3 linked regions of the Homo sapiens genome follow. The protein of the gene in region 3 purifies or fractionates together with the protein of the main gene of each other region. This does not show direct contact. Each region holds a gene or a part of one and is shown on either strand. Other genes may lie near its edges.

Region 1 (7,306 bases), on a different chromosome or scaffold from region 3:
GACTAAGACAGAGACAAATACCAATGTAGGAGTGAGGGTGTTACAATAAAGTGAAAACCAAAAATAGGCCCCATAACAGAAAACACTTCTCCCAGCATAGCAGGTTGTAAGTGCTGGAGACTGCTTAGCTTATCGGCATGTAAGAAATGCAAAAATAAATCCTTTCCAATAGGAAAGGTATCCTCAACAAAGGCCTCATCACAGGACAATCTCAGGAATAAGAGCACTGCTTGCACCTCCTTGCCGCAGACTTGCCTGTCGCCCCTGCCTTTGGTTATGTTCACCAGCTTCTCTATGCCTCCTGAGTCGGCCAGGGCTTTTGCGTTCTCCATGTTTTTGCTGGTGACCTCGTGCAGAGCACAGCAGATGGCTGCCATGGTCTCATCAGACAAGACACTGGGGCCATTGCCGCCGGGGAGCCGGTTGACCAGGTCTCGCATGGCGTATTTGCCTGCCAACGGCAAAAGAGTAAATTCTACTTCCAGAAGGTACTAGGTTTTTGTTATTGTTGTTCAGATTCTGGTGGCATGCAATCTCTTAAAAATAAAACCCCCAAAGAGACAATAATAGGGGAAAAAATCAAAACCCATGGCAAAGAAGAAAAGGACAAATGTCATTATAAGGGGAAAGCTAACATTTATTGCAACGTCACTTGCAGAAATGATTCATTTATAAAACATTACTGTCAATTGCTGAAAGCAAATGTAAATCAATGCGTAAAATTGGGTAGACAAATCAAGTTACTTTCGTTCGAGTATTTTCAGTAACATTGAGTAATGAAGGAATTATAATAGTAAATTTTATTCTCAATGGAATTCCTATGCATCACAAATACCTCAATTTCCTCTTAGAGCTTTTTAAAACTTACCTTTGAATCTGGACCAAGTCAGGCTGCCAAACAATACTTTTCGTTAGATCTTTCTGGATCTTAATGTATGAACTGGGTACAGTTACACATTTTTGTGTATAGAGCTGAGGTGTACAGCAACTCATCTGACAACGGTGGCAACATGTTAGTTTCTTTAAAAGATGACACAAGTAAAAGTTCTGGTATTAAAATTATAGGTATGTTATCTCCCAGGAATAATGCAATAATAATGAAATTCTTGCTAAGACAAGGCAAGGGGAGTTTCACAGTTATTGAGGTATTTCTTTATAGATACTGAATTTTTCTTATTCCTCTCCAAAAAGAGATTACCTCTAGCTTTTTCAACTTCGATTACCAACTGACAAACTGTAAGTGCACTACAAACAAAAGAAATGAACTAAAGTGCAAGTAAACATCTTCTTAGTTCTCCCCTATGCTAATAATTGAGTGGATGTGCAATCGCTTTTTATAAAGGCCTGTTTATTTACAGTGGTAAGCAGAAGAAGACAGGTCTCAGCTACATGCTGTGTGATGTACAGCACGTCAGAGGGAAGGCTCTGGCTTGCTCACGACAAACACTGCTATGAAGAGTGGAAAAACAGTGCTGACACTGTAAGGCCACAAGATAAATGTGGTTTTCAGAGCAGATGATAAGTTAGCTCTGGTGATTTTGAATACTCATGAATGACCAAAAGGCCCATGACATGTAATTTGTCATTTTGCTAAGGCATAACTTTAAATTGCACTCCTGGGGGTTAGGCCGAGGCAGCTCACTCTGCCTATGAATGAGTGAGCCTGGCGGTCCCCTCAGAACTTGCAGCTCCAGACAGCAGGGTGGGTCCCACTCAGTTGAGTATGTAGTAACTTTTATGAAGTGATAAAACTTTGCTTCTTTGTGAAAAATGGCTCTGAAAAGAAAGTCCTTTGCTAGTGCTGATGATGAATGTGAAAAAAGAGGGAAGAGGTCAGAGAAGGGGAAGGTTCCTAGGAACTGAAGTACTGGGTAAATTAGAGCCAAATACTGAATCCAAGAGTGAGGCAGATCTCACAGGAAGACGGGAATAGGGAAACAAAAAAACAGACTGATGGAACAGTTCAAGAGTGCTCCAGCCAGGTTAAAAAAAAAAAAAAAAAGCTCATCACTGGAGAGGCAGAAGGCCAGTGGAAGTTAAAAAGGGTTATTCACAGAAAACACAGAAATGCACTGAGAGGAAGCCAAGACTTGGAACACACATTCCTCTTGCCAAAGGTCTTAGCACTTCACAGTACCAGCTCAAGGACTCCTGTCTACCTGTGTCTTTGCGTTGTGAAATATGACAGGCCACAGGATATACGTGTCAACCATTTATTTTTTAGCATTAAAAATGCCCAAATTATACATGCTTCTTATAAGAAATCCAAACAATACAGACGTAAGAAAAATAACTTTAAAGAATATCTCTCTTTAGGGACCTGAAGGATTTCTGTAAAGGAAGTGTGGGAACTGAGAGATATGGCACATCTACAAGAATCAGGCATGAGCTGGACCATGAACAGGGTGAGGAGGAACTTCCTTTCCTCTCCGTAGGGGGATGATTTGGCTTAAAGGAATGGTGTGTTAAGAGCAGGTTAATCTGGGCAACAATTCAAAATAGCAATTCTGTCAGGCACTGTGTGAAGGGCTTCCATTGTAAGTCATCACGTTTAATCCTTACAGCAATTCTTTATGGTAAACATCATCGCCCTTGTTTCTCTCTCCTTCTCTCATGGCAGGTGTATTTTAAGTTTACTATAGATTCACATGAATCCACATAAGATCTTGTCCCATTTCCCCTCCTTCTCCCCTGACCTGTCACCAGCTGTGGGACTTGGCATGGAGCTCTCTCATTTCCTCTTTACAGCAAACCCAGTTAGGACAGCAGGCATCAACAGCTCCCCTTCAGAGATGAGGAGTTGCCTTTCATTTCCAATCTAGATAGAATTACGGAGCCTGAACGGGGTTATATAGGATACCCCAGGTTGCATGGCCAGTGAGCAGCACATCCTGGGAACGAAGCTCAGGTTTATGGGGGTCCCTGATGTCTTCTTTAGCCCGCATCCTGCCTAGGATGTGGCAATGCCGCAGAGGCAAGCAAGCTGCCTGGGGTGCGGAGCGTACAGAGGTCCTCACTGTTTGGTTTGTGCATGTGCCAACCCTACCTTGTACAAACCTGAGAGTAAAGGCCTCCTAAAATGTTGTGCCTTTGGCGCCTTGCTTAGCTCACCCTAGTCCTGCCCCTGCCCAGGGTGGAAATGATGTTGGGACAGTGGTTCTTCTCTGGGATAAAGATTTATACCAATGTGAGAGGGGAAAGCTACAAAACATTCATGTGATTTTTTATTTAGAGTATGGTAGTGTTGGTGAATTAGCAGGTAGCAGTCCAAAAATTGGAAAGGGAGATTAAGATTTTTTGTTGCTCAGGATATAGAGAACTCTCTTAGAAATGAGAGACATTAACCCTACTAGTGTTGTAAGGTACAACTAAAATTGCTGGCCTTTCTGAAAATTTACCTTCCCTAATCAATGACTAATTAATGAGCTTGCCTCCTGCTGAAAAAGAATGGTCACAAAACAGGAGTACTCAAATATGCCAAGAAACTGGAGACTAGGGCTCAGCTGTTAATGATTTTACAAGCCATATATTTATTAATCAAAAGAAGAGTTTCATGAATTTTGTAGCTGCTCTCACATTTACAGCTCATCTTGTCACCAGAACATACCTATGAGCTCCTTGTTGCGAACATCTAGTGCCATATTCCTCAAGGCTGTTGCCACGGAAGAAACAACTCTATCGTTATCCATTCTCAGAAGCTCCACAAGGATGGGGAGCCCCTTTTCTTTTCGGACGGCCGCCCGGATATATGCTGCAAACTAGTGAGAAAAATAAGGCAGGAAGTAACATAAAACAGAGTTCCAGTCTCATATGTTACTGTCACCTAAAAAAGATGTTTCCAAAAGATGAACTAATAGATTAAATGGTTTCTTTCCAATTGAAGATCAAATCTGTGGTGTCAGTGAAGAGAAAACCAAAGTTGGGGAGAAAGATAGGCTGGAATGACTGATTTAAAAAGAAATCCCAAAGCCTGAAAATCTCAAACCACCATCTGCCAGATATTTTTGTGCAGAAAAGAGAAGGCAGTGATTACTTTCTATCTCAGATACATAAACATGATTAAGGAAGGATCGTGTGTTTTCTTTGCAGTTGGTCCCCTGCCAAACCCAGAGGCTATAAATAGGATGGCAGAGACAGTAACCCATCAGCACACATGAAAGGAGAACCTGTCTCCATCAAGTCATTTTTTTTCTATATTCCCTGCAACAATATTTCGAGTTCAGAAACCTGTCAAAGAGATTAGTTGGAAAAATCCCTTGCCTCAGAAGAAAGGGAAATCTCCAGAAACATCCAGCATCATAATTCATACAGCCTGGTGAAAAAGTAAGTATATTTGTGTGCAAAATGCATTCTCACTCAAGATTAGTTAGCTGCTGATGCTGTTTTTTAAAAATCCATAGTCAAGAAATTTTTCTGTGACTATGAAGCAACTCTGTACTGTGAGTCAGTTTGTATATCTTATAAAATGGAAATGAGCGCTAAGTCATCAGTGAAACAACCAAAAAGAGTAACGTTAGAAAACGGTTCTTTAATCTTGTTTCCAGCTTTGAGCTTTAATTGACTTTTTCAACCAATGCAAATCATCTTTCAAATTTTAGGGTAATTGAAAGATGCTGCTCATAAAACATATACTTTCCTGCTGTGACCAAGACAGTAGGACAGAGATCTACCAGCCCTTTGTATTATTTCGAACATTAAAATATGTGATTGACCATCCAGTTTCTTGAATACCAACAGAATATTTTAATAATACAAATAAGAGGGAAAGATGCATTTCAAAGATCCTATTTATATTCTGCATATGAAATGCATACTCCTATTTTTCAAATCACATGAAATCTATGGGGGGAAAATGAAGTACATGACTGGTTACTAGGCAAAGCACTCAGGCAGTTTTATGAACTTCTCTCTGAAACCTGCAACAACAGAACCATCTCCTTCTGTCTCACTTGGAGACCTACCAGCCCAGCCCAGCCCAGCCCGTCTCCCTTCTGGAGAACTACAGTCATCACTGCTCCTGAAATAGCTTCTTACTTGATAACATCTGTGGCCACGATTATCTCATTTTCTTAGTGAAGGTCCAATATTTTAACTCACTATTGAAATCGCTTAGATATAATGTTTATATTTTAAATGAGCTTTGCCATCTAACTCTCTCACTAAATGATCCCAGACATGAACTTCTAAATAAGTCAAATCACATCGATTTCAATTACTGTCTTTTATTATCATCAAATGATCCTCTGGTCACAGAAGCTGAAGGTGAACGCTGTTCTACAACATAAATGTTTATAAATACTTATGTGCTGGGAGTATCTCACTAAATCCTCATAACCACTTTATAAGGCAGGTATTAATATTCACTTTATTTTAGGGAGGTGGAAACTGTGGGCAGAGCCCCTAGGCTGCCAGACGGTAAGCAGAGTGGCCTGGATTCAGAGCCAGCACTTACACACTCAGTCACTGGCACTTTAACTAGGAGCCACAACAAAATAACCACACCGGCTTAGCACTAGACCATAGTTATCGCTCTATATTCAACATAGTGGCCACGTGCACGAAACAAACCATACCTAGGCTTATCAATGCTTTTCACTATCTTGAAAACACCATCACCAAAAGATTCTCATTTTGGGGGGTTAAGGTGGGGGAAGAAGCCCACAGCAAGCATTGTAGTAACTCTACTAAAATACACCTGTCAAGAAATTACTAGAGGTTGAAAATGTCTCAGACAAGGACTGTCTGGGAAGTTGCTGGGGGACATTTAGAAAGTTCTGAGAACTTGCTTACAGTGGTAACAAAAGGAAACTGTCTTCAGTTTTCATACTCATACATTTGCAAAAAGATGCAGAAACCTTAGACACAGGCATGTCTGTAACGGTCTGAGAGGAACAGAGGTCCTCTATCCCTCCCCACAGTGCTGCCCAACCTGTGTTCTGTCCTGCCACTCAAGATTTCTCACCTTTGTATTGCTGCACTGGCTCCCAAATCCAATCCCTGCTTCTAACTCTCCCTTCCTCGAATCCACCTTTTGCACTGCCATGGAAGTGGGGGAGCAGTGATGATATTAGCCCGTCTCTGTCACTCATCTGCCCAGACTCTTTCGGTAGTCCCTCCTGTGTGTAGGTTAGGATTCAGCTCCTGAAGTTTGGCCTTCAGGCCTATCCATGATGCCTGGCTCCATGGTGGGCCCCAGTGGGCAGCCAGTAGTCCTGGCCCACACGTCTTCTCTGCACCACAAGACTGTCCTCCTCCTGTTGTCCCTGTTATCTGGATGGCTCCTTCCATACCACAGCCTCAGCCTCTACAGGCTTACTTTCACTCATCTTCAGAGATTCTGCCGGGCAGCATCCCCTTCAGGAAATCTCCTCCACGTCCTTACTCCGCTCTTTTCCTGACCTTCCCTTACACTGTGTGGCTGGGTTAGATGTCTTCTTTCAGGACCCCACAGCACATACATCCTGTGGCTTCTACACTGTGCTGGCACCATCTGTTTTTCTCACTAGCCTTCTGTTTCTCATAGTGAGGGACTTGTATTTATCTTTGTATCCCCAGAGCAACTGCTTGTCTCCCTTTTTTCCCTTTAACCCCTTCACACACAAGCTAAGTAGCTGTGACCCTTTCACCATCAGGGCTGATCTGACTGAGGCAGAACATATATATATAACATTTCAAGTTAGTTTGCAAAGATGGAAAGAAGTGTAGATAAGTGGAAGTCATCCTACCTTCCAGTTGCCAGCAGAGAGGTTCTGGAGAGACCCTGCAGAGCCTTCCAAGGTGGCTGGGTTGGAACTTTCTGCTAGAAGAGTCAGATATGGTTTTACCACCGATGGGTGCCACAGCATCTCAACCCCTTTGGGGGACTTCGACAGTCCTGGGATAGGACCAACTCCATCCCACTGAAAGACAAACAGCACACGTTAAATGGAGGCAGAATGAACATGATCTCCAATACTTGAAAACATTCACCTTTGCGGGACTCAGCTATAGCTATGCAGAAAATTTATTTTCTTGCCAAATATGTGATTCCTCACTCCCAGAAAAATTAAACTTGAGAGTCTCATATAAAATAAAATGCTAACTTGATCTTCTTGCGGAGTCCTCTTTTTCTTTTTCTTCTTCTTCCCCCAGCAACTTGGCTCAGAGTCTTTGCTGGGAGACTCTTTTCCTAGTAAGTCATCCAATTCGTTCAGTCCCAGTAACCGGGCCTGGGGCACCTCCAGCTCCAGCCGATAGGACAGGTTCCTCAGGGTGCACACGCAGTTCTCCACCGTCTGAAACCCAGCATGGCGTATAATTAAAAACA
Region 2 (7,738 bases), on a different chromosome or scaffold from region 3:
ACGAGATGGGACGCCCACACAGTGGGCTTAGGGCCTAAGGCAAGGGCATGCAATCAGCATTAGGGGGCCACAGATAACCAAAATTCACAGGTATGCAGAAGCTCATGGGAGAGGCAGCGACTATCTCCTGGCCTAACTAACCAGTTAACAGTATAGAGCCAGACTGGGCCCGAGTGAAGTCAGACAAAAAGGAAGGGCCAAGAGGCAGGAAGCGAGGAAAAATCAAAGGATGACAGGACCCTGCTAAAATATCTCAGTTCCACAGCTAGGAGGTCTGGAGGGGGTGCCACATTTTACCAAAAAACCAACAAGATGGTTGCGGGAATGCCAAAATGAACCAAAACAAATTCCCCAATAAAATGCAGAACCACTGCAGAGCCATTTACCAACAAGCTAACATGTTCAGCCAAGAGGTGACCTGGGTCTCAGTCCTCACTTGTGGCCAACACTGGGTTCAGTCTGTCTCCTGCTTCTTAGCAATAGTCCTTCCACACAATCTCAAACAGCAGACACCGAGATCTGGCTGAGCTCCCTAGCTGTACTAAGCCATTCTGGTGCTTCCAGGTAGATGGGTGATAGTCACCATAGCAAAACATTAGCCGGCCATAGAATTTGGGGTGGGGAAGTCACAGTTCCATCAACCAAGAGAAGAGGAAAAAATAAGCATTAAGAGAAAGAAGACCGGGCGCGGTAGCTCAGGCCTGTAATCCCAGCACTTTGGGAGGCCAAGGCAGGCAAATCACCTGAAGTCGGATGTCTGAGACTAGCCTGGCCAACATGGTGAAACCCTGTCTCTACTAAAAACACAAAAATTGGCCAGGTGTGGTGGCACATGCCTGTAATCCCAGCTACTCCAGAGGCTGAGGCACGAGAATCGCTTGAACCCAGGAGGCGGAGGTTGCAGTGAGCTGAGATCACATCACTGCACTCCAGCCTGGGCGACAGAGTGAGACTGTCTCAAAAAAAAAAAAAAAAAAAAGAAAAGAAAAGAAAAAAGAAGGAAGGGAAGGAAGGAAAAGGAAGGGAAAGGGAGGGAGGGAGAGAGGAAGAGGGCAAGGGAGGAAGGAAGGAGAAAGGAACCAGAAAAACAGATAATCAACAAACACATACATTTCATCACCTTCCTATGGAGAGAAAACAATTCACTGTGAATCTTAAGTGAGGCTCCCAAGAGCCCTAATAGATACCCAAGGCAGGCATAATTATTCCCATTTTACAGATGCAAGATCTGAGCCTCAGAGACTTGCTTTGTAAAGGTAACCCGATGAGGACCAGAATCCAGCTGCGCAGGCTCCAAGAGACACACTTGCCCAAACAAGTAGAAACTCACTCTCAGATGATTATCTGCCAATCCCCAAGGAAAGCAGTTATCCTCAGAAGGCAGGACTCCTTGGGCGTCTGTTTGTCCTGAGCATCTCGTACTGTTCTAACCCTGCCTTAAACTGACCAACTGCCACACACTCCGGGTCTACTAAGTTCTAGAGACCTCCAAATGCTACTTTTTCCCATCCCTGCCTCCCGAGAGGCTCAGCACTGTATAAGCGCCCACTAATGTTTGGGCCTTGAATTCCTTCTGTATTGTCCATGCCTTAGGCCAGCACCTGTGGCATCCATGGGCACAGTTTGGCTCTATGGGTGGCACCACAAGGGGCTCACGTCTGTCCTAGGACTTGACAGCAGTTATACCAACAACCGTAGGAGGAACCACTAACTGTGCCAGGCCCTCTGCTAGGCCCTTCACCGCTGCCCAAACCTGCCAGGTGGAGGGTGCACGCCCCGATTTATGCAGATGAAGCCTCAGACAGCCCCAGAGTCACTAGGTTTACGGAAGAAAGAAGCAGGATCTGCACCCCAATGCCTGGGCCTCCCCAGTCCCACCTTACACCACAGCGCTGTGCATAGACATGACTAAATGGCTGCAGCGAGATTCGGAAAAACCATGCTAAGACCGCACACAATTGGTTACAAAAACCAAACTGGATGACACTGTACAAAGCCACATCAAATGCACACTAAACCTTAAAGAAAAAAAAAATCTTAGGGAAAGTTTAACAGTCCTGTAAACCAAAGGCATTTAAAGATTTCTCCCAGGAAGCCATTTAGCAAAAGACACTCCCCAGCCCCCCTTCTCCCACTTCCTTCAAGCTCACCACTGAAAACACCTCCAATTCTTGCCTAAAGGTGGGCTCCGACCTCCCACGATATTTAGAAGGAGGAAAAAAGAAAAAGGAAAAAAATCCACCTCTTAAGGCAAATCCACTCTTCAGAGGCCCACAGTTTCAACAGGGCTGAATTTCTCTCCTGGGGGTTGAGGGGAGGCAAAAGAGGAGGAAAAAAAAAAAAACCCCATCTGGCAGGCCCCGAGTGGCGACATCCTGTTTATTATTAAACATTTTTAGCATGGAGCATTCAGCATTTCGAAAATAACCCTCTGGTTCCCGCACTCACACCGAGACTGGGCGGCCGCTCGCCTCCCTCCCCCAGCCGCCAACTTTAGCGCCGCCGGGGCCCGGCCCACCCCGCGCCAGGAACGGCCCCGCGAACGCCGCTCAGCGCCCCGGACCCAAGGCCCGACCCCGCAGGATCCCGCCTCGGGCGCGCTGCTCCGTCAATTGGGCGGGGCGGGGAGCAAAGACGCCGGCCCCAGAACCCCGAGACCCGGCTGCGGGCCCGGGACCCCCGCCCCTCCGGCCTCTGCAGCCCGGCCCGGCCTCGGGGGTACGGGGGTGGCGGGCGAGCCCTGAGGGAGTCGCGCGGCCCCTGGACCCCGCCCGAGCCTGAGGCCGCGCGGCGCCGCCACAACAATGGCGAGCGCGCCCGGGCCCGCCGCCCCCAGGCCCCGCGGCCTCCCAGCCCCGCAGCCCCGCGCCCGGCGGGAAGGAGGCGGCGGCGGCCGCGCTCGCGGACAAAGGTCGGGCAGGGCCGCAGGGCCCCCGGGCCCCCGGCGGCGGCCGCGGGAGACAAAGCCCGGCCGGGCCGCGCCGCCTCCATCTTAGCGCCGCCGCCCCCACGCCCCGGCCCCGGCCCCGGCCCCGACCCACCTGGTCTGGTTCCGCGGGCGCGGCCGGGCCGGGCGATGGCAGTCGGGCGGCGGTCGGGCACGGGGGCGGCGGGATGGCGGCGGATTGCGAGGCGGCGGCGCGGGCTGCTCGCTCGCTCGCTCCCTCCCTCCTCCCGGGCTCGCTCGTCGCTGCGCGGTGGAGCCTCGGCGCCTGTCTCGCCGCTCGCTCCCTCGCGCTCGGCTCCCCGCCCCCCGCCTGCCGCCGCCCCCGCCTCCTCGTCCTCCTCCTCCCGCCGCCGCCCGCAACCTGGGCCCGCGCAGCGCCCCCTGCCGCGCCTCCCGGGAGCGGCGGCCTTGGGATCGGCCCGGGGGCCGGGCGAGGGCTGGGGCCAGGGGGGAGGGGCGGGGAGCGGCGGGAGGGGGCTGGGAGGGGGCTGGGAGTGGGGAGGGGCCCGGGGACGGCGGGAGAGGCGGGAGAGAACGGGGCAGAGCGGGGATCGGGGAGGAGACCCGGAGGAGGGGCCAGGAGCCAAGAGAAGGGGCCTGGGAAGGGCATGGGCCCGGCCTGGGCCCGGGGGAAGGGCGCCCGGAAAGAGGGGGAAGGGATGGAGGGGGCAGTGACGGGGGAGCGAGCCCGGATCTCCGCCCCCTCCCCCTTCAAAACTGCAGCGCCTCAGAACAGACTAAGCCCGGATTTTGTTAAAATATGTATACGGTATATGAACGGAAAGGAAGCAGAAATAATACTTTTTTCATTTCAAAAGCAAGGTTGTTGCACAATATGGGTACTTTGTCCCATTTTTACAAAATGAAAACTAATAAGCCCCTCCTCTTGAGTGTTGTGTGTTTGTGTGATTGCAAAACAAAAGGTCCGGGAGACTGCACTCCTGTCTTGGTTACCTCCGTGGTTTGAGGTTGGGAGAGCGGAGGAGGGTTCTTACTTTTTTAGACACCTAACCAACTATAAAAGCAATTTCAAAAAGCAAATACAAAAAAAAAATGTTAGGGCCTGGCACCCAAATCATCCCACCCTCTTCCAGTCACGGTTGCTCTAAGCACCAGCTGCGGGCCATGCCCTATGCTAAAGCACGTGGTTTGTCTCACTTAATCCTAACCCAGGGGCAGATATTATTGTTCTAATTCACAGGTGAGACAAAGGAGGCTTTGAGAGAATGTGCCCCAGGCCACACTGCTGGACCCAGAAGGAAAATTAACCCACTTCAGCCTAACTCCAGAACTGAGGCTGGTGAACAAAGCTTAGTTTTTGGGGAGTAGAATTCTGGATACTTTTATAGCCTTATTTATAATTCTCTGAATTTTCCTACATTTTATCCATGGTCATTTTCAGTGTTATCCTTTTTTTCTTTTTTCTTTTTTTTTTTTTTTGAGACAGTCTCGCTCTGTCCCCCAGGCTGGAGTGCAGTGGCACAATCCGCAATCTCTGCTCACTGCAACCTCCAACTCCTAGATTCAAGCGATTCTCCTGCCCCAGCCTCCTGAGTAGCTGGGATTACAGACATCTGCCACCATGCCCAGCTAATTTTTGTATTTTTGGTAGAGATGGGATTTCACCATGTTGGCCAAGTTGGTCTGGAACTCCTGCGCTAAAGTGATCCACCTACCTTGGCCTCCCAAAGTGTTGGGATTACAGTGCCGGCCACTCTGTTTTACATCATCAAATCTGCATTATTCCCCTGCCAATGTCTTCAATATTTCGCTATCTCTACAAAACAGGGAGGATGTAACCCTAATTTTTGTTTTCGATTTTGTTCCTTGACCATCTTCAGGAAGGCCATAGAATTGGCCCAGTGCTCAAAACCCAGCAACTAATAAAAATGATAGAAGGCAAATAAACAAATAAAAAATAAATTAAATAAATAAACTGAGCCTCAGGTTCTTCATCTGTAAGGCTGGCGCAGTGGCTAACACCTGTAATCCCACCACTTTGGTAGGTCGAGGCAGGTGGATCATGCGGTCAGGAGTTCAAGACCAGCCTGACCAATATGGTGAAACCCCATCTCTACTAAAAATACAAAAATTAGCCAGGCATGGTGGCAGTCGCCTGTAATCCCAGCTACTTGGGAGGCTGAGGCAGAAGAATTGCTCAAACCCGGGTGGCGGAGGTTGCACTGAGCCGAGATCATGCCACTGCACTCCAGCCTGGGTGACAGAGTGAGACTCCATCTCAAAAAAAAAAAAAGAAAGAAAATAAACAAGCAAAAAAGAAATAAACTATCTGAAGCCTCAGATTCTTTATTTGTAAGGCCAAGCGTGGTGGCTCACCCCTGTAATCCCACCACTTTGGGAGGCCGAGGCAGGCAGATCACCTGAGGTCAGGAGTTTGAGACCAGTCTGGCCAACATGGTGAAACCCCGTCTCTACTAAAAATACAAAAATTAGCCGGGCATGGTGGTGGGGTCCTGTAATCCCAGCTACTCGGGAGGCTGAGGCACAAGAATCACTTGAACCCAGGAGGTGGAGGTTGCAGTGAGCCAAGAGCACGCCACTTCACTCCAGCCTGGGCAACAGAGAGAGACTCTGTCTCAAAACAAAATGATAGGAGGAGGCTGAACAGTAACAGGGTGGTTTACTGAGCACTTACTATGTGACAGCCACTGTGCTAAACACTCCCTATAGAGTCACTCAGGTAATCCTCACGACATACCCATAAAACAGACACTAGTGTGCCCATCCAACAGAGAAGAAAAGTAGACTTTGTGGAGGCAATACAATGCCCCCCACCAAAGATGTCCAAGTCCTGATCCCTGAAATCTGTGAAAATGGTACCTTCTCTGGCAAAAGGGATTCTGTAGATGGGATGAAGTTAAGGATCTTGAGATGCAGAGATGAATCCTGGATTATTTGGTTGGGCAGGTGGAATCACAAGGGTCCTCACAAGAGGAAGGAAGGAGGGTCGGAGTCGGAGAAGATGTGGTTGATGAAGCGGAGTTCATCATATTGACTGACAAAGGAATGACGCAGGACCTCACGCCCAGAAATGCAGGCTGCCTCTAGAAGCTACAAAGGACAAGGAATGGATTCTCCCCTAAAGCCTCCAGAAGAAAATGAGCCCTGCCAACCACCGTGACCTCCAGAACTTTAAGATAACAAAGTTACATAAGCCACTAAATGTGTGGTAATGTAGCAATAGAAAACTAGTACAACCTTGGAGACTTGCTGAAGGCAACACAGCGAGGGAAGGGTTAAAAGGCAAGCTAGGGCCAGACACAGTGGCTCAAGCCTGTAATCCCAGGACTTTGGGAGGCTGAGGTGGGCAGATCACTTGGTCAGGCGTTCGAGACCAGCCTGACCAACATGGTGAAACCCTGTCTCTACTAAAAATACAAAAATTAGCCAGGCCTGGTGGTATGTGCCTGTAATCCCAGCTACTCAAGAAGCTGAGGCAGGAGAACTGCTTGAACCTGGGAGGTGGAGGTTGCAGTGAGCCGAGATTGCACCATTGCACTATAGCCTGGGCGACAGAGCGAGACTCTGTATCAAAAAAAAAAAAAAAAAAAAAAAGCTAGGGCACAGTGGCTCACGCCTGTAATCCCAGCACTTTGGGAGGCCGAGGCAGGTGGGTCACGAGGTCAAGAGATCGAGACCATCCTGGCTAACATGGTGAAACCCCATCTCTACTAAAAATACAAAAAATTAGCCAGGCGTGGTGGCGGGCGCCTATAGTCCCAGCTACTCGGGAGGCTGAGGCAGGACAATGGCATGAACCTGGGAGGCAGAGCTTGCACTGAGCTGAGATCACACCACTGCACTCCAGCCTGGGCGACAGAGCAAGACTCTGTCTCAAAAAAAAAAAAAAAAAAAAAAAAGGCAAGCTAGGAGTCTTGGGAGAGAAGAGACCTGGCTTCAAATCCAGCTCAGCCATCTCCTACCTCCCTGACCATCCTCATGGAGAGAATGGCATGCAGTCATCCATCCCTGCAAAGTGCTTAGCCCAGAGGAGAGCCCTGGGAATCAAAGTTCGTCCGTTCATTCACTGGGCACCTGCACTCTGGTGCTCACTGTGCCAGGCTCTGGGGCCATGCTGTTGAACTGGGCAGAGAAGGGCCACTACAGTCAATAAAACAAACACAGGCCAGACGCAGTGGCTCACGCCTGTAATCCCAGCACTTTGGGAAGCCAAGGCGGGAGGACCACGAGGTCAGGAGATCAAGACCATCCTGGCCAACACGGTGAAACCCTGTCTCTACCAAAAATACAAAAACTAGCCAGGCGTGGTGGCGGGCACCTGTAATCGCTCGGGAGGCTGAGGCAGGAGAATCGCTTGAACCCAAGAGTTGGAGGTTGCAGTGAGCCAAGATCGCCACTGCACTCCAGCTTGGCGACAAAACAGGACTCCATCTCAAAAAAAAAAAAAACAAAAAAAAAAACAACCATGTTCCGAGGTTTTAGTTCTGGTTCTGTCTCCAACCAGCAGAGCTAGCCTTTTGGTGCCTAAGAGTTTCTACCTGCGAAAATTGGGTGGGGAGCACTGTGGTGTCTCTCCAGCTGGGATCCCCAAGCAGAGAAGAGAGCTTGGCACAAAGTAAGCACTCAATCTCCATGGTGGTTGAAAAGTGGATGCCTGGACAACTGAGGCCAAAATCATGGCTCCTGACCAACCACACAAAACACACGGCTCACAAAACCAGCCAAATAAGCACATGCACTAAAGCCTCCAAACCTCAGCAAGCCTGGAGGTGGGTGCCCAGCCTCCCTTCCCCTACTGTCACCACTATG
Region 3 (7,211 bases):
GGGATTGTGCCCACGTTCAGATGAAAAACCCGAGGCTCACAGAGGGGAAGGGACTGGCTCCTGGCCTCACTGGCAGGAAGCAGAGGAGGGAAAATTGGGAGGAAGTCTAAGCTTCAGGGTTGGGTGAGTCCTTAAGTCCATGTCTCAATATATCATCCCAACAAGTCCATGAAACCATATCATCTGGGGAAACAAATTGGACACGCCACTTAAACAAATTAAACGGGCTCTTTCCTGCCGGACTTGTCAGAGCCTTTAGCCCCTTCACGTTTCCCAAATCTCTTTGACCAGGACCAAGACCAAGGCCTGGGACAACTGGCAGGCCCTGGGTCCCAAAGGCCGAGAGAGAGGGCACGATGGAGGTGAAGGTGTCTACAGCGTTTGTACGCGTGTACTCCGGCCATCTGTGCACAGAACAGATGACCGTGTGTACATATGCACCTGTGTTTCTCCATCACTCCATCTGGGGCTCAAATGACATCTGTAAAAAGCAGAACAGGCATCCAAAGGCCAGGACACGCGCCCAAAGACCAGGGTCTGGCCCTTCCCGGCTTCCCCTGCAGGAGATAAAGTCCAAGACTGCCTTCACTGCCCCTCAAGTCAGATTCCACAAGGATTTATTGGCACCGGACCTAGCCTGGTGCCCGCCCCTTCAAGGAAAGACACTAACAAGGAGGAGTGCCGGCACCGCAAGAGCCCTCCCAGAAGCGCCCAGACTGGGGGTCGGGGAGGACGCTGCCATTCGTGGCCAGGAAGGGAAGGGAGATTCCGGAGGAGGGTGGGCACGGCGCAGGGAAAGGCCGGGTGGTGGGATGGGCAGGGAGGCGGGGTACCGGCCCCGCTAGAAGGGGAACTCGCAGACGTAGTAGAGACGCCGCTGGCAGTCGTGGTCCCACCAGGAGCCGTCGTCAGAGGCCTGCGCCACGCAGTTCTCGAGCGTGCCACCGTTGGGCTGGTCCGGGCTGAGCGGATGCGGCGAGGCGCTGGGCTGGGCGCCGAGCTCGGGGCGGGGTGAGCGATGCCAGGCGAAGAAGGACACGCGCTGGCCGTTTTCGAAGAGGTAGAGGCCCTCGGCGCGCCGATCGTGCACGCCCAGCCACACGGGCCAGTTGTAGGGAGCGAGCGCCGCGCGCAGGTACCGAGTGAGCGCCTCCATCTGCTGGCGGTCTGCCGGCTGCGCCAGGCTCCCGCCCCGCGCCGTGCACCGCGCCTGCGCCGCCGCCTGAGCTTCGAAGTCGCGCGAGAGCAGGAAGCACTTGTGGCCCAGGCGCAGCCCCTTCAGGCAGCCTGTGGGCGGGGCCGGGTAGAGAAGGAGGCGGGGTCATGCATTCAGAGTCTGGAAGGGGGCGAGGACAAAACATCCGGGGGTGGAGGGAGGCGGGGCCAGGAACTCATGGGGAGGGCTGGGAGGAGGCGTGGTCAGAACCGCGGGAGCCAGGAGGTGGAGAGTCTGGTCCGCCAGGGGCGGGGCCAGGCGGTGGGAGCTGGACTGTAGGGGGCGTGGTGCTGCCCCAGTCGGGTCCGCGCGGGTCTGGAGTGCCCACCCGCTCCCTGCATTCAGCCTCCCAGCTCTCTAACCCCGTCCGCTAGCACACAGCAGCTCTCCCGAACTCTCCCGCCCCGGACACCTAGGGTCACCTTCTCAACCAGTCCCATTCCTGGCCCAGATAGTCTCATTTTTTTCCACCCCGCGCGCCGCGGACTCACCCTCCAAGCGGCCGTGCTCGCGCTCGGCGCGACCCTGCGCCTCCTGCAGGGCTTGCACGGCATCGCGGGTGTCGCCTGCCGCGTTCCGCAGCTGCCGCAGCCCCTGGGTCAGCTCGACCACGCGGGTGTCCAACGCGTGCAGACGGACGTGCAGCTGGTGCAGGCCTGCGTCCAGGCCGGCCAGGCGGCCCACTGCGGACAGACAGGGATCATGCTGGAGGGGGAGCCTGGAGATGCAGCGGGGGGCCTGAGGACCTGGAGAACTGGGATCTAGGGCTCCTGAGGGCGGGGTGGCGGTGGGGGGGGCACCCCGGACTCCTGGAAGGTAGGGTCGAGTGGCCCAGGCCTTTAGGAGGCATGGCCGTGGACCTGGGGCTCCTAGGGGTGTGGGGGCTCTGGGCTGGGCAATGGACAACTGAAAGGCCACTTGGCAGTGAACCGACCCTTCATTTTTGCGAAAGTGACCGCGGCGGCCTAGGAGTTTGGGGGTGAGGGCTTCTGGTTACTCACGGATGTAAGTGACGATGTCCTCAGGGGTGGGAGAGGGGCTGGGGCCGGAGGATGGGGTTGGCGTTGCTTCCTCCTCCTCTTCCTCCCCCTGGTCCTCCTCCATCTCCCAGTCCTCTTTTCCCTCAACAGTTCCGGCAGGATTCTCATCCCCCCTCCCAGCAGGCAGTCCTAGGGCTTCCTGCAGATGCTGGGGCAGGGGAGGGGTGGTGAGCCCCAGCCTGCCACCAAGATGCCCCATTCACCCCTTTCCAACTCATAACTCATTCTCTGCTGCCTGAGTCCTGTCTCTGAGCCCATCACCCTCCCACTCCTCTGAGACTATCCCAATCGCTCCTCATTGTCCATTTCCCTAACCTTGCAATACCCCCTCCCAGACCCACAGTTCACCACCCATAGCTCCCTGACACTCCAGAGCTCACCTTCAGCATCAGGGCCTCCCTCTCCCGCTCCTCCTCCTGGGCACCTCCCCAGCCTCCCTCCCACTCCCTCTCTGCTCCCCGAGCCCCATGGCCAAAGCCCAAGAGCTGGGGGACCACCAAAGCCCCCAAAAGCCAGGCTGCCTGCATTAAGCTGGACTCTTGGCACCCAAAGTTCCAGATGTCTGGATGTCTGGGGTGGGAGGGGTGGCCTCTGGGAACTGCCGAGTGCCCCTGCCCTGTGTGCAGGTCACTAGCCCCCAGGTTCCCGATTCTCCCAGCTTCTCTCTTCCTGTTCCTCTCCTCGTCTCTGTCCGGTCCGTTGGTCTCCTCTGCTTCTCTGTGTGTGTCTCTCCCCGCCCCTCTTGGCTCCCCGGAGGCCCTGCCTCTGTGGCCGGAAACCTCCAACGTTCCAAAGCCTAGATCCCGCCTTGGGTCTCCTCGCACACCCTCCTCTTTCCACTTTCCAGAGCTCGCTTCCGCCCTGCTCTTTCCTTCTGCTGTAGCCCAAAGATCAGATAATCAGGAAGAGGATGGAGCTGGCTCTCCAAGGAATCTTGGAAAACACAGGCCCCGGCCTCAGCCCAGGAACCCGCTCAGAACCATCTCGGCAGTGGTGGGATGCTGGGACCGAGCACTGCTCCCTTCTTCCCTGCCTGGCCATTCCTAAGGAGGGGCAGACCTCAGGGTCTCGCTGAGGTTGTTATTACCCTGTGGCCACCATCGCCTGCACACTCAATGGAGGAGACTCCAGGGCCCCTCCTGCCCCCTAGATTGCCCATCCTACCCTCCAAGCCCTTGTCTGGAGATCCAAGTGAGTGTGTGTGGGGGCAGGGTGACACATGTGAAGAGCACGCGTGTGACTGTGTGCATGACCCTGGAAGACGGGGCTCGGGGATTAATTGGCCACTTTACTAGAAGCCTCCTGCAGGCCAGGCTGTGGGCTGGGTGATGCTGGGGACTCCAGCTGCTTGCAGACCAGCAGCCAGATAGCTCCGGGGATGAGGGGGCTGGAGATGGGAGAGGGTGAGGAGTCTGGCGGAGCAGTCAGGGAAGGTTTCTCCAGGAGGTGAAATCGACAGACGCTAGGTTGTGTGCTCAAGGAGCTCTGAGCATTCAGCAAGCCACCTCATTTCAGCCTGGACCACTGCAGTCTCGCCCTCCCCCTCCTTCCTCCTGAGCCCCTCCAATCCCGGCTGCTTGCCGCAGCCAAAGCAATCCTTCCAAACCATAAATCAGATCACATCACTCCCCACTCCCCTGCTCCCCCACCTTCCCATCATAAGCAGGAGGGAAGCCAAGCCCGGGCCTCAGTCCTCAGCGCAGCCTACCATGCTGGGGGCTGGGAAGGAAGAACCCTTTGCACCTCTGCAGCCTCATCACCCCCATTCCCTTCACCCACCCCCAGCCTCCACCTTCCCTGGCCTCTTGGCTCATCCCCAAATACTAAGCTGATTACAACCTCAGAGCATTTGCACTAGCCCTTTCCTCCTTCTAGAAGCCTCTTTCCCCAGCTCCTTCTCATCATCGAGGTCTCAGCTCCAGGAGGTCTTCCCCAACCACCTTATCTATTCCGCAAGTTACTTTATTAAAATGCCCCATTTCATCTTTTTGGTATAATCAAGACTGGCATGATCTTGTTTGTTTATGTCTGTTCCCTGCCAATGAAAGCAGGGATTTTTATGCACTGATGCATCTCCTAGCACAAGGCCTACCTAGCACATAGTAGGTGTTCAATCAACCTGTTGAGTGGGCGAGAGGGTAGCCGTTCCTGGTGGGGTCAAAGGCCTGGAAGCTTCACCTCTTTGGTTTGCTGGCACCCAAGTTCCCAGGGTGGTGGTGGCAGGGTAGGTAGAGGTGGTGAGGGCAGTGGGAGAGAGGCTTGGAGGCAAGGAAGAACAATGCCATGCCATGCCCCTCTATGTCAGGCCCATGAGTCATGCAGGGCTTTTCCCGCCCAGGCCTGGCTGGTGGTGCCAACAAGCATGGGGCACACCAGCCAAGGATCACTGGGCCTGCTCTTCAAAGGAGGAGACCGAGGCTCTGAAACAGCATAGCCTGCTGGAGGTCACCAGTGTGGCGGCAGCTAGCCAAGGTTTCTGGCTCCAAGAGCAGGGCATCTGCCCTCGGCTGCCGGGAGCCCCAGGAGGGGCCTTGGAAATCAGTGCCTCCAGCCTTCCGTTTTCCAAGAAATCCTGGTACATCGAGGGCACTGTGACCTTGGGCAGACTGCTCCCTGCCTCAGAGCCTGGGCCTCTCAGGTGCCCATCGGGAACCTGGGGCCCCTCACCAGGAGCTACAGACCTCAAGAAATAATGCGTATGTGGGGAAAGGCCTTGTAAAGTGTGCAGGGGTGCACAGCCTCTCTGGCTGCTGGAGCCAACATGGGCAGCTGTGCTTTCCCCGGGCCCAGCTGCTCACCACCTGGGCTAGTGGGTACGCATCAAGATAGAGGCCTCCCCAGGCTGAGCAGGCACCTCCTCCAGCTCATACTCGGGTACCCCGGAGAGCCTGCAGCTGGAGGGGAACCCAGAAGCTGCCTAGAACTGCCCCCTGCAGGCCCTGGAGGTGCTGTTGGAGCTGGGAGAATGAGGAAGCCTGGGCTAAGGGGACACTCACCACTCACTGCTGCCCTGTGGGATCTGCTCTGTCCCTGTGGGTGCGTCCCAGGCATGAATGAGCTGTCTGCCTGCAGCTGGCTGCATATGCGTGCCTACACAGACATGTGCAAACTCTGAGGAGACGGTTGGGTGTGTCTGTGTGTGATGAATAAGGATATGCAACTATGAGGGGATATGCCCAGTAGTGCACCATAGTTGTCAAGTGAGGACTTTGGAGCCAGCCTACCTGTTCCTGATCCTTGTTACCACCTCCTTACAGCTGGATGACCTTGGGCAAGTTACTTAGCCTCTCTGTTCCTTGGTTTCCCCCTCTGGAAAATGGGGATGGCGAAAGTCCCTGAGCCTGGCACACAGAAAGTGCTCCAGGAATGTCAGCAGTAACTATCCTGGAGGGGAAGGATGGCACGGTGTTGGGCATGTAAACGGGTGAGTGCGAGCCAGTGCAATGGACAGCACGGTGGGTGGGTGTGATGGGAAGGCGTGCACACGTCTCTACAGTGCTGTAACTCCGTTTTGGTGTTGAGAGATCTGGGCATGCATACCGGGGTGAACGCCTGTGTGCGTGTGTGCGCGCGCACGTGCGTGTGTGGTGGGCAAATGTGTGCATGTGCTGCGTGTGTGCCCGGGCACAGGGGTGTGACAACTGCATGTAGCTGGGTGTGTTTGTAGCTGTGTACCCCAGGTGCATTGTGTCTGGGCATGCATGCGCTGGAGAGTGTGTGTATGTGGGGACTCTGCAGGTGCCGTTACAGCTGGTGACTATGCACCTGTGCCTTGGGGAAATGTGGCCTGGCCCAGGTATGTCCACGTGTGCCCTGACCCAGTGCTTAAATGGAAAGGGTGTGTGTGTGTTTGGGGGGACAGGGTGGGAATCTATAGCCTTCACACTTAAATTTGGGGGTGTAGAGTCTGGCAACAAATATTTATTGTGCCCCACTCTGTGTAGGGCGGCGGGGAGCTCTCTGGGAGGGGGTGGTCCTGAGGTGTGTGTGGGGGGGCACCTTATGGGGGCAGGACCCCTTCCTCGGGGTATGGGAGCAAGCAGGGGCGGAGTCAGGATTTGGGGACTCGGAGGTGGGGAGGAGTGGTGGGGGAGGGCAAGGGTAGGGGGCGGAGCCGGCGGTGGTGGGGGATGGGCGAGGTTTGGGGGCGCGGGGAGGGGCGATGTCTCCTCCGCCGGCTCCCGGAGGGAGGGGAGAGGGCGGAGGGAGGGGAGGGAGGGAGAGAGGGAGGGAGAGAGACAGGGTGAGGGAGAGACAGCGAGAGCGAGAGAGCGAGAAGGGTGGCAGAGGAGGCGCGGAGCGGGCGGCGGCGGCGGCGGCCCGAGGAAGAGGAGGAGGAAGAGCAGGCGGAGACGCGGCGCCCGGAGCCGGCCGGACCGAGCCGGGGGCGGGCGAGGAGGGGCGCGGCGGCCGCGGCGGAAGGGGGGGCGCTCTGCGGATGGCCAGGCCCGGCCCGCGGGGGGGGTGAGGTCCTCGGCCCTCCCGCCCTCCCCCCCGGTCCCCGCCCGCCCCCTCCCCGGGCCCGCTCGCCCTCCGGGGCGGTGGGGCATGGCCTGAGGGTCCCCGTCTCCGGGGGGGTGGGGGGTGGGGGGAGGGGGGAGGGGCCGCGGGCGCCGCCGACCGGGACTCAGCAGCCCCGCCAGGCAGGTAAGGGGGTCGAGAACCTGGGGGTTTGGGGCAGCTGCGGGGCCGGGGCCGCGGGAGGGGGCGAGGGCGCCCCGGATGTCCTTGGCCCGGCGCCGGGCTCCTGGCCTGGGTGTGCGGCTGGGGGTACGGGTGAGGTGGGGAGCGTTGCCCTGGGCGACACCAAATTGGGTTACGCCCGGGTCCCCGGTGCCCCGTCCCAGATCGCATCCTTGATGGGAGGGCGCGCCCCCCACCCCCGGCCAGCAGAGCCCCTATCCCGAACCCGCCTCCCGGCTCTCCGGGGCCAAGGGCTCGGTCCTGGTACCCGC

What was found. Proteins that work in one complex are often made in the same cells at the same time.
Region 1: the proteins of CLEC11A (region 3) and PKP4 purify together in Homo sapiens (affinity purification with mass spectrometry; 4 studies listed by BioGRID and IntAct, with this or other methods). This does not show direct contact.
Region 2: the proteins of CLEC11A (region 3) and PRRC2B purify together in Homo sapiens (affinity purification with mass spectrometry; 4 studies listed by BioGRID and IntAct, with this or other methods). This does not show direct contact.

What each region holds. Positions count from the first base shown.
Region 1 is NC_000002.12:158,662,865-158,670,170, reverse strand, and holds part of PKP4 (plakophilin-4), read right to left. Parts: intron 7,275-7,306; coding exon 7,083-7,274; intron 6,900-7,082; coding exon 6,726-6,899; intron 4,324-6,725; exon of another isoform or gene 4,090-4,323; intron 3,759-4,089; coding exon 3,608-3,758; coding exon of another isoform or gene 3,594-3,607; exon of another isoform or gene 3,507-3,593; intron 452-3,506; coding exon 256-451; intron 1-255. UniProt on the Homo sapiens protein: Plays a role as a regulator of Rho activity during cytokinesis. May play a role in junctional plaques.
Region 2 is NC_000009.12:131,389,567-131,397,304, reverse strand, and holds the start of PRRC2B (protein PRRC2B), read right to left. Parts: upstream 3,220-7,738; 5' UTR 3,042-3,219; intron 1-3,041.
Region 3 is NC_000019.10:50,719,098-50,726,308, reverse strand, and holds CLEC11A (C-type lectin domain family 11 member A precursor), read right to left. Parts: upstream 2,946-7,211; 5' UTR 2,784-2,945; coding exon 2,637-2,783; intron 2,405-2,636; coding exon 2,218-2,404; intron 1,900-2,217; coding exon 1,708-1,899; intron 1,288-1,707; coding exon 842-1,287; 3' UTR 601-841; downstream 1-600. UniProt on the Homo sapiens protein: Promotes osteogenesis by stimulating the differentiation of mesenchymal progenitors into mature osteoblasts. Important for repair and maintenance of adult bone.